Linked DNA regions of Homo sapiens: region 1 is linked to region 2. The links come from fine-mapping of genetic effects on gene expression. A gene starts in region 2. The other region holds a variant in brackets. All regions are shown on one strand. Distances are between the middles of the regions. Region 1 overlaps BAHCC1 (BAH domain and coiled-coil containing 1). Region 2 holds the start of ACTG1 (actin gamma 1).

Region 1 (4,376 bases), 46 kb after region 2:
GAGAGGTGATGGAGGGGGAGAGTAGGACGGCGGTGTTGCGGGGCCAGAGCCAGGCGTGAGTCCTGCCCTTAGATTCAGCAGTGTGCCCTGCAGGGCTCCTGGGGAGGTCAGACCCTCGAGGTCGGGGGCCCACCTAAGCCTGCCGTCAACCCCACTCGCTAAGCCCGGGTCACCTGCCTCCTGGGCTCACTGGTGGCACCCCCTTCAGCCAGGCCCCCTCCCCTCTGGCCGTTTCCGGCCCTCAGCCCCACCTGGACCCCTAGTCCGGCCCTGTGCCACCCTTAAAGCCTTTCTCTTGGTGCCAGCCCCTCCCCCCAGGTACCTGTGCCGGCCTGGGCCCTCAGGTGTCTAGTTGACCTGGCCCCTCTAACCCTGACCCCCAGGTGCCTGGCTGGCCTGGGACCTTCAACCCTGACTCCCAGGCTGCAGAACCAGTGCCTCAATTTGACTGCAGACTCTGCTTAGAGCCCTTGGGGCACCCATTGTCAGAGAGAGAAGACAGGCTCCATGCTGCTCTCAGGGGCTTGAGATTTGGCCTCTGTCACCCTCTAGCTCTAACATCAATCCCCTACCTCCCCCCGCCCCCATTAACCACCTGCTGGCCACCCCAGCTGTTCCTTGACTACCCTCTGTCTGCCCTGCCCTGCCCTGGGCTTTTCCAAGACAGCCCAGGTGTTACTTCTTCCAGGGAGCCCACCTGGACCACCCCAGGGACAGTCAGTTCTTTGTCTGCTTTGCCAGGTGCGGAAGTCCCCGCTGATCCTGCTGCCACATGCAGCGGGGGGCGGGGAGCCACAGTGCTGCCCCACCAGGCCTGGCTCAGCCCCGATACCACACTTTTGGCTGAGATGGGGGTGGCCGACCTTGGGGTTCCACGGGTGAGGTTATCTCAGCTGCGTGGCCCCGGGTGCAGCTGCTGGGCCCCACTGTTCTGGTCTCTCCCATCTGCCTGTCATGAAGGTGGGGCCGTGGGCCGCTCACTTCCACTGTGGCTCACTGCTTGGTACACTGCTGGCACCAGGCAGTGCTGGGTGAATGGAGGATTTGAACCTGAGACCTGCTGGCAGAGGTTTCCTGTGGGCTTCCCAGGCAGGTGTCACCTCTCCGGCCTGGGCCTCATCCGGCTCTCTTGCCCCAGAGTCCCTGTCGGCTGCCTGTGGCCTCTCCGTGCGACCTGCTCCGTCAGGCAAGCTCCTGGAGTGGGCAGGAGGCGGCAGCAAGTCCTGGCTCAGGGCTCCAGGAACCGGGGCAACAGCCGCAGGCCTTCCTCCCTGTTCCGGGCTGGATTCTGCCCGAAAAAAGTCACTGAGATCACTGAAGTCAGGGTCTCCTGAGCCCACAGGGAGTGTCTGGCCTCACCCGTCTTTCCTTTCTTGCCACAGAGGACCCCTGACCCAGAAACCTGGTCCAGCAGCCCCCTTACTCAGCGCTCGGCCCGGCCAGGGCCTCATCTGCTCCCTGCCCTCACAGCAGCCTGAGGCACGGCCGGTCCCTGAGCACCTCTCTCCGCACTCACCGGCCCAGGAAGGCACTGCTGACTCAGGGACTCCGTCCTCCAAGGACCATGTTTCCTGGCCTTGGACGCAGCTGTGACCAGGCACTCAGGGCCCACTGGGACAGATGTGCACCGACTTCATGCAGCTTCCCAAGATCCCGGCGGCAGAGGGGGAACAAGGAGGGTCCCCTACCCCCTGCAAGCATCCGGCTTCCTCTGGGTCTGCAGCCTCATGAACAGGGCTCTCTCCAGCTGGGGGTGCACTCATCTGTGTTCCCACACCCGGGCCGTGGGCCGCCCCTCCCAGGATGGTCATTCACGTCTGAGACCCTGCCCAGCGTGGCGGCTCGGAGACTGCTCTTGCCCTTCGTCCTCTCCAGTGGAACCTACTCTGGCCCTGGACTGGTTCAGGCTGGACAGGGACTGTGAGAGCAACCAGGAAAGGGGCCCTCCTCCTGGAGGGACCCCACCCCTAAGACCACTCTGAGCCCATTCCGGTCACATGACCCTTTCCTGGCCTGAGGGGCTTCACTTGGGCCAACACAGGGGGCGGTGGGGAGGCCTGGCCCAGAAGCCCCAGCTCTGGGAACGAGAGGCTTCTGCTGAGCCCCCGGAGCCCTGGGGAACCCCCAGGAGTACCGTGGGACACAGGACCCTGGACCACCGAAAACCTGTACAATAGTCCATATATTTATTCTTAAGCAAGTTATCAATAAAAAATTTGATACTAAAATGCCTTTACATAGAGTCTGCTGTTCATAAAACCTTTGTGTGTTTTTTTGTCCATTTTGTTTTTAGTGTTTACATTGAAAAAAAATCCAACCATCCCCTTAGTTTACACATTTACAGGAATCGTGCCTTCGTCA[C/T]GTTAACCACGGTGAGAGGGGAGGGGCCGCACCATTCGCACGCACACAGAAAAAGAAAGGAAAAAACCAGGGACAAAGCGGAACCCAGCAGAAGCGGGACGAGGACGAGGCGGCGGAGCAGAGGATCCAACCTCCGTGGCTGCACCCTCCTCGGCCCTCTCTGGAACTCCAGTGGCTCAGCATGCCCCCGTGCATTTTTCTTCACTTGACATCGTTCTGATCCCCGAGCCTCAAGCAGGACCTCGTCCAACCACCTCCCCAGACAACCACCGGGAATGAAATATTGCACTCATGCGAGACAAAGGGTAGGCTCGGGGGTGGGAGCGGGGGGCTGGAGGCGGGGACCCCCGACCACAACATAAGCCCCCAGCCTTGAGCCTCCTGGGGAGCCTCTGGGAACGGCCCTTCAGGGGGTCCAGCCAGCAGGTGAGAAACAGGCCCCAATGGGCCCGAGAAAAATAGGGGGCCAAGGGGACCTGGGATTGGGGTACAGGGCACCCACCAGCACCCTGCTTCGAGGCCTGTGGTGTGGGGGACACAGAGCTCGTCCTAGAGCAGTGGCTAACTTGGGGGGCTTTCCTGAAGCTCCCGTGGGGCCAGGGGAACCTTAGTGTGGGAGGATATAAGGAGTGTGTGGCCCCCCATGCGTTTCTGAGGCTGAAGGCTGTTGGGCTCAGGTCCAGGCAGCCTGTCTGTCCTTGGCTGTGGGAGAAGGGGAGGGGTGTGAATTCCCTGGGGATACTGGGGCAGAGCCCTCGAGGGGTGCTGCTTGCACCTGGGGCCAGGATTTGGGCTCAGGTGGTCAGGGGGACCCTCATTCTATGCCCCAAGCACTAGCCCATCAGGCCATCTGCCCCACCAAGTGGCACAGAAAAGGCCGAGAAACCTCCAAAGGGGTTGGGGCAGGCAGAGGGGTCCGAGGGCCAGGCAGATTTGGCTGGTGGAAAAGGGGGCCCAGAAAGGGGCCTTCCCCAAGGGCAGGGCCTGCGTTTTATTTTCTTCTCCCCTGGCCACAGCACTGCTGGCCTGGCCTCACCACCATCTACGCAGCAGGCCAGGGGTTTGGGGGCACCAATAAGGTGGGTGGGAAAAGGGGTGTCTTTTGCATGCATTCTGCTTGGGGGTGAGGAGAGAATCTGGTGGGACTGTGAACCTGCCCTCATAGGCCCCGAGCCCTGCCCAGTTCAGGAACCTGGCCAAACTGCCCCTTCTCACGGCACCTACTACTTTCAGGAAAGTTAGGACCCCAGGGGTGAGGAGGGGCTCAGAGCTGGGCCCTGCTTCCCGAGTGTGCCAGGGCGGCGAGGGTGAGGGGGGCGAGGGGCCAGCCCCTCCCTGCTCTGGGTGGAGGCCAGACTCCTTGGCCTCAGACCAACTGGCCCCGGAAACAGAAATCAGATATAGGTTGGAATATGATTCAGCAGATACAATCCAAACATTGCTTTTTCTTATCAATACTTTAAAATATTTGTTCGTCTTTGTCTTGTTTTGAACACAGGTGAGATGCTCACGGCTGTTGTCACACTCCCTGGTCTGGGCTTTGCCTCTTGAATCCTTTCCCCACGGGCCCCTCATCACCACCCCCTGCTCCAACACTTCTTTTCTAGGAGATGCACTGAAAGCAAATAAACTTGACCGACTTTCATCTTACACGGTCGTCCCCCCAAGAGATCAGAGGGTGCCGTCAAGGGTCCCACCTGACCCTCCCGTGGCCTCTGCCCCCTGCCCCGAGATGCCTCTGTCGTCCCAGGTGCCCCCGTTGGAACCCAGCTGGGCTGAGAACAGTGCATTTCCAAAGGAAACCCCAGGACAAAAATCGCCACACACGCGCACACACATACACGCTCACACACACCTTGTCACGCGGATGGGGAAAAACCCTTTTCCACTTTTTACCATAAAATTTCCCCGCAGAAATACAATATTTACATAGAGAAATAAATAGACAACACACCTGATTTCTGCTTTCCCTGGTGGGAGACAGTCGGAGGTACTAGGGAATATGGCTTGGATTC
Region 2 (4,376 bases):
CTCCCCGCGGCTCAGGCCCTGCGGGTGGCGGGGAACCCGGGGGTCTCGAGGCGCCAGCCTCGCCCCCGCCCCCACGACCCTGGCGGCCTCGGGTCCGCAACGTGGGGAAGAAAGGTGGGGGACGGGGACGCGCGCCCGGGGCCGGCACCTCCCCGCACTTCCTAGACAAAGAAGCTTCGGAGGAGACCAGAGACCCGGAGGGGCAGGGTCCCCGGCCGGCCCGGAGCAGAACGTAGTGTGGGGTGAACGCAGGATGGAGGGGCTTGTGGCTATTCCCCACCCGCCTCGTGTCCCTCGGTGTGTGACGTCGCATCTTGGGACCCCCCAAGTGGAAGTCCTCACCCGGGGGTCGAGCAGGCTGTGTGGTTCTGCCCAGGGACGCGAGTCCGGGTGGGTCTGTTGGAGGCCCAGCCCCGGCTTCGCCACGGGAGGGAACATACCTGACAGCCTTGCCCGGGCCCCCGGAGATTCTGGGCCTGGGGGCGCTCAGCACCCCTGGGAGGCCTGGGGCACGGGGGCCTTAGGCACGGGTCTCGGCGTCCGGGCTGACTGCAGCCCGCAGGTGAGCTGGGCCGGCCGCCTTGCCCTGACTCGCTGTTGTCACTCCCAAACACGGGGTCGCGAGCTAACGTTGCAGGGCCCCGGACTCCGCGTGGGGACCCCGGCCCCGCCCCCCAGCCTGTCGAGTCAATCTGAACGCTCTGCGACCTCGGGCGAGTCCGTCCCCTCACTGCGCGGCCTCACTGCCACCCCTACGCGGCCGGCGCTCCAACCCTGAAAATTCCAGCAGCGCACAAGGAAACCGTAGTGCCGGGCGCCTCTCGGGGTGTAACCAAAGCACCGGCGCCGCTCCTGGCGAGGAGTGAGCGCCCTGGACAAGCCTGTGGCTAAACCCACGCCAGCCCTGATCGCTGCTCTTAACTAGCATCGTAAACAGAAGAGGGTATCCCCCCGACCGCCCGAAGCTGGGGAGCCGACCTTCAAAAAAGTCAGGGCTCCCATTGTCTACCTCAGTTTCCCTATAATGTCTACAGGTGACCAGAATGAAACAAAGGCCTCACTCCACACCACCTTCTCAGCACATAAGGGGGCGGGGTAGCCCCAACCCGGAGCGCGCGCCTGGGGACAATCAGGCCTGTGATTTGAGGGGCAGGGATGTGTCGGGTCGGGTAGAAAGGGGCCTCGGTCTTCAAACGAACGGAGATCCGGGGCAGGGCGCCCCGTGGAGGGACCTGCATGGTGGTGGCTGCGCTTGGGGACGGGCGGGCTGTTTCCTATGGTGACCGGGGCGAGGTGAGGGCTCCTGAGAGCTCCCCCGCGCCCAGGGACGCAGAGCGTCGCGGACCCCCGCCGCGCCCCTTCCTCAGCCCGGCACTGGCGCCCGAGATCCTCGTGGAGCCCGAGGGGAAAGATTGCAAGGGACGTCCCAGGGAGCAAAGCCCCGCAGCGTGGCCGGGGACTCGGGGACCCACCCCAGCTCCGGCGCGGCCCCGCCCCGGGTCAGGCAGTTTCGGGGCGCAGCAGGGCCCTCCCCACGGCGCGGCAGTCCCGGGGAGGGGCCAGGCCCGTCAGCCCTTCGGCCCTCCCGGCGACCCTCGGAGGGCGCCCCAACTCAGACCCGCCCGCCGGCCCGCGCAGGGTCGCGAGCGCGCGGGGGTGGCGCGGGCGGGGCCGTTGGGAGGCGGTGCGGGCTGGGGGCGGGGCGGGCCGGGGCCCCACGTGTCCCTGCCCGGCGGGCCAATGGGTGCCCGGCTTTCGGAAAGATCGCCATATATGGACATGTTCTGGGGCCGCGCGCGCCGCCGGGCCGCGCGGGCGCGCCGCTTCCGCTTAAATAACGGCGGGGGAGGCCGCGGTCGGTCTCAGTCGCCGCTGCCAGCTCTCGCACTCTGTTCTTCCGCCGCTCCGCCGTCGCGTTTCTCTGCCGGTGAGCGCCCCGCCCCGGGGCCTGAGCTGGACGTCGCAGGCCTGCGCCCCCCGACCCCGGCTGGCCCCGCTTCCAGCTGCCGAGGCCTCGTCGCGCCTTCCCCGGGAACAAAAGGCGGGGTGGGCCGGGTCAGGCGGACGGGGCTGGGGGGGCGCCGGGGGTCCAGGGCGGGGCCCGGCCGCAGTGCAGACTTCCGAGCCGTGGACGTTACGTAAAAGGCCCGGCCTTCGGTTCCAGGCGGTTGCGATCTTGGAGGCCACGGCCGCTGGGGTTGGGGCAGGGCCGAGGCTTCCCCGCGGGAGGGCATTAGGTGGCTGTGGGGAGGGGACCGTGTTACAGACGCGCCCGCCTGAGTCCATCCTTTTCCGGGCAGGTCGCAATGGAAGAAGAGATCGCCGCGCTGGTCATTGACAATGGCTCCGGCATGTGCAAAGCTGGTTTTGCTGGGGACGACGCTCCCCGAGCCGTGTTTCCTTCCATCGTCGGGCGCCCCAGACACCAGGTGAGTGGATGGCGCCGCGGGGCTCCTGGGTTCTGCGTTGCGGGGTGGGTTCGGTGTCGCCGGCGAGGCTGACGGGTCGTCCCCTGCAGGGCGTCATGGTGGGCATGGGCCAGAAGGACTCCTACGTGGGCGACGAGGCCCAGAGCAAGCGTGGCATCCTGACCCTGAAGTACCCCATTGAGCATGGCATCGTCACCAACTGGGACGACATGGAGAAGATCTGGCACCACACCTTCTACAACGAGCTGCGCGTGGCCCCGGAGGAGCACCCAGTGCTGCTGACCGAGGCCCCCCTGAACCCCAAGGCCAACAGAGAGAAGATGACTCAGGTGAGGCTCGGCCGACGCCCGTGCTCCTCCCGTCCTTTCCCCAGTCATTTTCTGCCCGGCTTGATTTCTGACATTTAAGTGTTTCTTTCGCTGTTCCAGGCTCTGTTCCTCTCCCGGCATTTCCTCCCTGAAGCCTCCAGGTTTCTCATTTGGTTTCTGCCTGCGTTCTTTTCTTTTCTCCACACATCACACTGGCATGCAGCATGTTGTGGCGTGTGAGCATGGGGTGGCCGTGGGTCTCTGTCCCTGACTAAGCCGCCCCTTGTCCCTTCTCAGATTATGTTTGAGACCTTCAACACCCCGGCCATGTACGTGGCCATCCAGGCCGTGCTGTCCCTCTACGCCTCTGGGCGCACCACTGGCATTGTCATGGACTCTGGAGACGGGGTCACCCACACGGTGCCCATCTACGAGGGCTACGCCCTCCCCCACGCCATCCTGCGTCTGGACCTGGCTGGCCGGGACCTGACCGACTACCTCATGAAGATCCTCACTGAGCGAGGCTACAGCTTCACCACCACGGCCGAGCGGGAAATCGTGCGCGACATCAAGGAGAAGCTGTGCTACGTCGCCCTGGACTTCGAGCAGGAGATGGCCACCGCCGCATCCTCCTCTTCTCTGGAGAAGAGCTACGAGCTGCCCGATGGCCAGGTCATCACCATTGGCAATGAGCGGTTCCGGTGTCCGGAGGCGCTGTTCCAGCCTTCCTTCCTGGGTAGGTGTTGTGAGCTAAAGGTTTCTACTCTTACATCCTCGGTGACACAGCATCACTAAGGGAGGGCTCTGTCCCCTAGGTATGGAATCTTGCGGCATCCACGAGACCACCTTCAACTCCATCATGAAGTGTGACGTGGACATCCGCAAAGACCTGTACGCCAACACGGTGCTGTCGGGCGGCACCACCATGTACCCGGGCATTGCCGACAGGATGCAGAAGGAGATCACCGCCCTGGCGCCCAGCACCATGAAGATCAAGGTGAGTCGAGGGGTTGGTGGCCCTCTGCCTGGCTCGGGAGAGCTGACTGGGGGGCGCTCTGTGAGCTGAAGCCGTGCCTGGCTGTCTTTGCAGATCATCGCACCCCCAGAGCGCAAGTACTCGGTGTGGATCGGTGGCTCCATCCTGGCCTCACTGTCCACCTTCCAGCAGATGTGGATTAGCAAGCAGGAGTACGACGAGTCGGGCCCCTCCATCGTCCACCGCAAATGCTTCTAAACGGACTCAGCAGATGCGTAGCATTTGCTGCATGGGTTAATTGAGAATAGAAATTTGCCCCTGGCAAATGCACACACCTCATGCTAGCCTCACGAAACTGGAATAAGCCTTCGAAAAGAAATTGTCCTTGAAGCTTGTATCTGATATCAGCACTGGATTGTAGAACTTGTTGCTGATTTTGACCTTGTATTGAAGTTAACTGTTCCCCTTGGTATTTGTTTAATACCCTGTACATATCTTTGAGTTCAACCTTTAGTACGTGTGGCTTGGTCACTTCGTGGCTAAGGTAAGAACGTGCTTGTGGAAGACAAGTCTGTGGCTTGGTGAGTCTGTGTGGCCAGCAGCCTCTGATCTGTGCAGGGTATTAACGTGTCAGGGCTGAGTGTTCTGGGATTTCTCTAGAGG

The links. PIP is the estimated chance that this variant, and not a neighbour inherited with it, causes the effect.
Region 1: its variant is the best candidate, but not a certain one, in a credible set for the expression of ACTG1 in whole blood (TOPMed, PIP 0.57).

Annotation. Positions count from the first base shown.
Region 1 is chr17:81,464,120-81,468,495 of GRCh38, reverse strand. BAHCC1 (BAH domain and coiled-coil containing 1) reads right to left here. Exons shown (of 28, transcript NM_001377448.1): 28 at 2,165-4,376. Among named protein-coding and RNA genes, the nearest start is that of MIR3186, 15 kb to the right of the region's middle. The variant C/T (reference allele first, on the strand shown) is at 2,362.
Region 2 is chr17:81,510,285-81,514,660 of GRCh38, reverse strand. It overlaps ACTG1 (actin gamma 1), which reads left to right and starts at 1,862. Exons shown (of 6, transcript NM_001614.5): 1 at 1,862-1,927; 2 at 2,301-2,429; 3 at 2,519-2,758; 4 at 3,035-3,473; 5 at 3,553-3,734; 6 at 3,828-4,376. The coding sequence starts at 2,307. The coding sequence ends at 3,971. RefSeq lists silencers at 1-216, 437-626, 1,257-1,736, 1,937-2,106 and enhancers at 757-806, 837-1,116, 2,327-2,416.